Linked DNA regions of Homo sapiens. Changing the gene in region 1 together with any one later gene gives a genetic interaction. Each region holds a gene or a part of one and is shown on either strand. Other genes may lie near its edges.

Region 1 (3,652 bases):
ACTCCAAAACATTTATGTACTTTATTTTTTGCACTGATCCCTGATTGTTTTATCTCCAGACATCTTTCTTCCCTACTAAAGCTTCTTGCTGACTGGTTCTGTCTGTGTATGCCACCACCACTCTCTCAGTAGCGTGGGTGCCTGCTTGCTACATAGTATGTGCTGGGTTTCCGTGTCCTCCTGCCCCTTGCCACTTGCCCCTTCTGATTTCAGGAAAACTGATTTGCATTTTTACAATGCGTAGTGAAATGTATAAAAAATGCTGCTGGTATATTAAACTGGTCTTAAGTCATTTTCTGTAAAATGTCAAATTTCTTACTTTTCTTGCATTTTTTAGGGTCCCAGAAGAAAAATAAGAAATTCTACATTTGGCTTTGACAGGCTTCTCATTTATAACTAATGTTTTTGTGATAAACACAGGGCTCAGAGATGTCAGGCTAGCTTTTCCTTTTGTAATATTTGCTAGATGTGGTATTTATTGGGAGACTATTCTCCATGGGTCTCTCACATGTTATGCATGTCTTGGCAAGCAGAGATACAGACTGACTGCTTTTTTTCCTGGACTATCATTTTCAAGGATGTTTATATAACGAGCAGCCTTGCAAGACAGAGATAGTATTTCTCTTCAGAGCAAAGAGCAGGTTTGCTTATGGTCCAGTATAAAAAGTGTCTCCTTCCAGAGCATGTTTACATAGAGTTTATAGTAAGTAAGGATAATGCCACCCTCCAGTGCAAAGAATGGGCATGCTTATGCCCATTATAAAATATTTGAGTTCCTTTTAAGCTCAGGCTCTCTTTCCTGTAACACAACCCATTGCATGTGTAATTGTTACCTGGCCCTTCTATCGCACCCCATGGAAATTGGGGCATGGGGAACTGGCTTAAATACTGACACTGGCTACTGCTATTTCCTTGAGTAGTGAAGTTCTTTGTCTCTGACCTGGGGTCTTGTGTCTTCTGCCAGTATCCATGAAACTGGCAGAATAACTTGTTAGCTTACAAGTAGGGTAAAATCTCAGACCCTTCACAGTTCTTAGTAATAATGTTAAAGCTGCTGTTTTCATACCTGCAAAATCAGCCCTTCTGTAAGTAACTCCTGTTAAGTTTGGATGAGATTAGAATTTAGGTGCCTTATGACTATATACTTTATTTTTCCCCCTATTCTTTTTCATGAAAATAAATTACTCGAGTTAAAGGACTGTCATTCTGAGATTGTCCTTCTGTGAAATAATGATATTAGTGTTGTTCTCTTTCTCTCTTTTCCCCAAATAAAAGCACTGCTGTTTTATGAGGATGAGCTACACTGACAAGCATGTTGATTTGTTTACTTAAAGCTGAAGTTTGGAGTACATATTGTCTTAAAATGAGAAATGGGGTATTTGGGAGGACATTTTTTTAAAATTCGGGTATAACATGACTTTTTAATGATAAATTAGATAAATAATAAAACATGTTGGATAATGATAATGCTAAGGGAAAAGAAAATGAAAGAGGATACGATTGTTTGGGTGGACAAGACAGTTGAAATTTTAGATAATGTTGGCTACAGAAGGCCTTACTGGTGGCTTCTGAGTAAAGAACTGAAGTAAGTTTGGAGATGAGCCATGTGATTTTCTGGAGGGAAGGCATCTGGGTAGAGGGCACAGCAGTGCAAAGGCTCTGCAGCAGAGTGTGCCTGATGGGAGACATTGAGGAGGCCGGTTTGTGATGCTTTGAAAACAGATAATGAGAGGGTTGGAGTATTAACCTTTGTCTTAGCTGTGTTTCTATACTTTACCCCAGAGCATTTGCTTTTATGTTTATATATTAATCACCTTTCCATTTGAGAAATGAGATTCCTTTCTTTAAAAACATTTTGAAAACTACAGAACTAGATAACTTGTCTTCCAAACTATTCTTAGTTCTCATTGACAGTCTCTGTAGGTGCTTATTTTTCAACAGTCAATTTAAGTCCCAGTCTCACATTGGTGTGTTTTTTAATTCAGCAGGTATTCGAGAGCTATATTCAACCCTACTTTATGTGGTTTATTTTTAAGCCCCCACATGATTATATTCCTTGCTTCTGTTGAAGAGAAGAGGCTGAGACAGCTTGGAACAGTTGGAGAATAATATAAGATAACATTCTACCTAAAACCTTTCTAGCCAAGGTTGCTTCTTACCCTTTGTTACCAAATATAAAAGCTAGTTTTCAACTCTTGTTGGCCTCTTAATATTAGGACCATACATTTCCTTGAAACACCATCCTGTCACTCTGGTTGCACCATTTCTCTTTCTCAAGGATTCCTCATTCCTTGAGTTTATGCCTTAACTGCTTCTTCTCACTCTCCTTAATCTCTTCGGATGCTTCTATCTACTATATGGCTTCAGTTACCACCTATAGGTTGTTGATTCTCATATCTAAATTTGTAGTCTAAACCCCTCTCTTGAGCTGAATTGTTAGCATTTGTAATTAGTTGGCTTTTTACATATTCATTTTTATATTTAAAGCAATTTGATATCTTTTACCTAAAAAAAAAAAAAAAGCTAGTTCTTCCTCTCTTTACTTTGGTATAATAGTATTCTTGTCCAGTTGATTAAGTTATAATCTTTATGTTCGTGACCATTAGTCAAAAGCTATCAGGTACGCACCTGTAGTAAACAAAGTTAGGTTTATTGATGCTTTCTGCAGCAAGGGAAGCCACATACCATGGGGAAACCATGAAATGTCGGTAAGATGATGTTGGACAGACTTAGAGAATGTGGGCTTTTGTTGGGTAATTTTGGGGAGGATTCAGGGAAGTGATGAAGGTTTCCTTTGGATTGGATGCTGTGAAGAAGTGGGGATAATTCTATGATTGGGTATCTTCATAAATCTTATCTAGGAGGTGACAAGAACAGAGTGACGCTAAAACTAAATGGTAAAGAAGCAGCAGTCACTTGTGCAAGATGGGATTTTTTGTGGTTTGCATGGAGTCCTTGCTTTTGTCTGTTCTCAGACGCAATTCCACAGTGGCTTGGGTTTGCCTCACTTCCATCATAGTCTGATGTTAGTGATCTGTGAGATCTTGTTTGACAGAAAAATGCCACAGTCTAGCTGTGAGTGCTGAGCCACCTCCTAGCTGTGAAGGGCTGCATTTCTCTCTCTTTCTCACTTATTTGGGATAGATGTAGATTAGGTGGCATTTAGACAATAAGAAGATGTATTTTAGGGTATTTGAACAAATAATTTACATGCTATTGGCTATGTGTGAGGGGCAGTAAAGAAAATTATTATACTGGTAATGTATCAGTAGGATCTAGTGTTATGTTGAAGTAGAGATCACTTGGTTGTTTGTTCTTTATGTATCAATCATACATGGGGCCTTTTATAGCTAAATGTTTGAGTACTTAACTATTTGCCAGACACTAAGTACTTACATGTTCCCTTTTAATCTTTCAAGTAAGTTGAGTCAGAAAGGAAGGATGCATATTCCTGTCTTTGGGAATAAGAACCAAACTGGAAATCCAGGTGTGGCTAGTGGTGTAGACTGTTAAGTAATGTTTAAGAGTGTGAGTTTTAGCATAATAGATTGAATTGATTAGATACAAATGGTTAATAAATTTTAAAAAATAGCCTGTGACAATGTTCAGGATGACTAGAAACTCTTGGTTTTAGGTATTTATTTGGCTTTCC
Region 2 (3,652 bases), on another chromosome or scaffold:
TGTGCACCACCATGCCAAGTTAATTTTTAGAATTTTTTGTAGAGACAGGGTCTCACTATGTCTCGCGGGCTGGTTTTGAACTCCTCTCAAACAATCCTCTACCTCAGCCTCCCAGAGTGCTGGAAGCAAGCCACTGTGCTGAGCTGCTGGTCACCCTTCCTACATTAACAACTATGGATGTGCCAATCAATGCTGAGATGCTCTGATATGCTCCCAAGAATCTGTTTCCACAAATCACCACAAAACTACTTGTTGTAGCCAGTATACGAGCCAAGGAAGCTGGCCACTAGGATCCCCTGAATTACTTTTTTTTTTTTGAGGTGCAGTCTCGCTCTGTCACCCAAGCTGGAGTACAGTGGCATGATCTCTGCTCACTGCAATGTCCACCTCCTGGGTTCAAGCGAATCTTCTGCCTCAGCCTCCCGAGTAGCTGGGACTACAGGTACATGCCACCGCACCCGGCTAATTTTTTTATTTTTAGTACACACGAGGTTTCACCATATTGGCCAGGCTGGTCTCGAACTCCTGACCTCGTGATCCGCCCGCCTTGGCCTCCCAAAGTGCTGGGATTACATGCGTGAGCCGCCGCACCCAGCCCCTGAATTACCTATGACTTTATCAAGGGAAAGAGTCACCTGTGTTGTTAAAGCTGAGCTGATGACAGCTCCACAAATGTTAACTGAACAAAGTGCCACACTATGTGCCTGTGTCTGAAGATGAATGAGACACAATCTGTGTGTTCTCGGAGCTTCTCCAAGGTGAACTTTTCTGGGGCTTAACCTGCAACTGGCCAGGAACAGCAGCTTAAAATCTCATCAATAGCTGTGCTATTTCAAAGTACTGGCATTCTCCCAGGACATCCCCCAGGGTGTCAAAATTTAGCCAAAGCAAACTTCAAATGAACACAAAGTCCTTATTTTCTCAAAGAAAACAAAACAAAACAGAACAAAAAACCCCCCAGATTTATTTAGCTTAAACATTTCCCCTGATCTAAAGAGAAAGATGGCAAAAGATACCTAGCATATATGCACAAGCACCCACTCCAATGAACTCAGATAACCTGAAAGAAAAAAGGACAAAGTTCTGTTCAACTTAGAAAATTATCTTCGCTTTTGAAAGATGTTTCCACGTCCCATTCCACGTCCTCTTCCTCTTGCGGCCACTGAAAGGGAAGAGAAAATATGAGGCCAGGTCAGTGTGGTCGGTGAATGCTCATAGCACAGAGTAGCCAGGGCCCTAGGACACCAGTTAGAAGGGTTCTGAAGGGTTACCTGGTCCAACACCACCCTGGCCATTGCATTTCCACCTCCCGCCTTTTTTTTTTTTTATTTTTTGAGACGGAGTCCCACTCTGTCACCCAGGCTGGAGTGCAGTGGCATGATCTCGGCTCACTGCAATCTCCACCTCCTGGGATTAGGCGATTCTCATGTCTCAGCCTCCTACTTGAGTAGCTGGGACTACAGCCGTGAACCACAACGCCCGGCTAATTTCCTGTATTTTTAGTAGAGACAGGGTTTCACCATGTTGGCCAGGCTGGTCTTAAACTCCTGACCTCAGGTGATCCACCCACCTCGGCCTCCCAAAGTGTCAGGATTACAAGCATAAGCCAACACGTCCAGCTGACAGCCACTGCATTTAACAGGGGGGATGGAGACGGAGGGGCAGGGGCTGGGGACTGGCATCAAAGCAGGAGCTAGCAGCACACTCTTGCCTTCCAGTCCCACACTGCTCTCTACAAGAGGCTGGGAGGCAGCATGCTGAGGGCAAAGAAGGTGGTCTGAGAGCTACAGAAAAGACAAATCCTTGGGGCTGGCCTTGGGTGAGCTGAAAAACATTATAGATGCACTGAATTAATTTTTTCAATTCTGAAACAAATATAGTTAAGTGTTAACATGTGTTAGATCTGGGAGAAGGGTTATATTATCTTTTGTATTTTTTTCTGAGAAAATAATTATTTCAGGCTGGGTGCAGTGGCTCATGTCTGTAACCCCAGGGCTTTGCGAGTCCAAGGCAGGCAGATCACTTGAGGTCATAAGTTTGAGACCAGACTGGCCAACATGGCAAAACCCCTTCTCTACTGAACACACAAAAATTAGCTGCACGTGGTGGTATGCGCCTGTAATCCCAGTTACTTGGGAGGCTGAGGCAAGAGAATCACTTGAACCTGGGAGTTGGAGGAGGTGGCAGTGAGCTGAGATCAAGCCACCGCACTGCAGCCTGGGTGATGGAGACTCAGTCTCCAAAAAAAAAAAAAAAAAAAAAGAATTATTTCATAGTAGCAAAAAGAAAACACACTCCATATAAATAGCATGATAAGACTGCTGTTCTCCTCTGTAACCCAGGGGTTCTAGGAGAAGACAGGCTTTGAAGAACAAATAAAATATTCTTTTTTTTTGAGATGGAGTCTAGCTCTGTCACCTAGGCTGGAGTGCAGTGGCACGATTTCGGCTCACTGCAACCTCCACCTCCTGGGTTCAAGCGATTCTCCTGCCTCAGCCTCCCGAGTAGCTGGGACTACAGGGACCTGCCACCATGCCCAGCTAATTTTTGTATTTTTAGTAGAGACGGGGTTTCACTGTGTTGGCCAGGCTGGTCTCGAACTCCTGACCTCGTGATCTGCCCACCTCGGCCTCCCAAAGTGCTAGGATTACAGGCATGGGCCACTGCGCCCGGCCCCTCACACTATTACATCTTTAAACTTGAGCTTTCATCTATGGTTCCCAGCTCGTAACTCCTATAGTCCTTGTTATAGTCTTTTGTTATAACATTGGGGCACTTTAGGCCTCAGAAGCAGGACTCAGGAGACAGAATCTCTCTCTTGAAACTTCTCCTGCCCTCCTTTCACCTGCCCAAGGCAGGACCCTAATCTGATTGTGGGTCATAAGACCTCACTCCAGAGAAAGGTCCTGCCCTATACCCTGGAGGAACAAATGCTGCAGAGAGAGGCCAAAAAGAATCTGGACAGGCCTCGCGGGGTTTCCCAACCCCGTCTATTAGTGTTAGATCACACCCATTTTGTCTAATGGCATTTCCACATGGTTGTCCATCCTTTAATCATGACTATCCAATAAAGTCTCCATAAAAGGCCCAAGAGGGCAGGGTTAGGGGAGCTTCGGGACAGCTGATCATGCGCAGCCTGACAGGAAGGTGAACAAGAACTCATCCATGTGCCGGGAGGAAACTCCATGGGGCTAGAAGCTCTTGTGCTTGCGACCCTTCCAGATCTCACCCTATGCATCTCTTCATGTGGCTGTTTATTTGTAGCCTATAAAATATCCTGTTATAAACCAGTAAATTTAAGTATGTGATTCCCGAGTTGTGTGAGCTACTCCAGCAAATTAATCGAACCCAAGGAGTGAGACGTGAGAACCCTGGCTTGAAGCCATTCAGATGTTCTGGAGGCCTGTGCTTATGAATAATAGTGGGGGGTGCAGGGGCTGTCTTGTGGGACCGAGCCCTCAACCTGTGGTTTTTCAGGCTATCTCCAGGTAGATAGTGTCAGAACTGAAGGACACCCAGCTGGTGTCTACTGCAGAACTGACTGCTTGCTTGGTCACAGAAGTCTTTGTTGATTGTTGTGTTGTGAGAGCAGAGGAAAAACACAGTTTGACTTTTTTCCTCACACACATATAAAACATGTACAGCAGCTAAA

The links.
Region 2: changes in GTF2E1 (region 1) and SNRPD3 together harm fitness less than expected from each alone (positive genetic interaction), as found in Homo sapiens cells (one large-scale study listed by BioGRID).

The regions. Positions count from the first base shown.
Region 1 is NC_000003.12:120,766,690-120,770,341, forward strand, and holds part of GTF2E1 (general transcription factor IIE subunit 1), read left to right. Parts: intron 1-3,652.
Region 2 is NC_000022.11:24,569,426-24,573,077, reverse strand, and holds part of SNRPD3 (small nuclear ribonucleoprotein Sm D3), read right to left. Parts: intron 1,163-3,652; coding exon 1,101-1,162; 3' UTR 1-1,100. UniProt on the Homo sapiens protein: Plays a role in pre-mRNA splicing as a core component of the spliceosomal U1, U2, U4 and U5 small nuclear ribonucleoproteins (snRNPs), the building blocks of the spliceosome.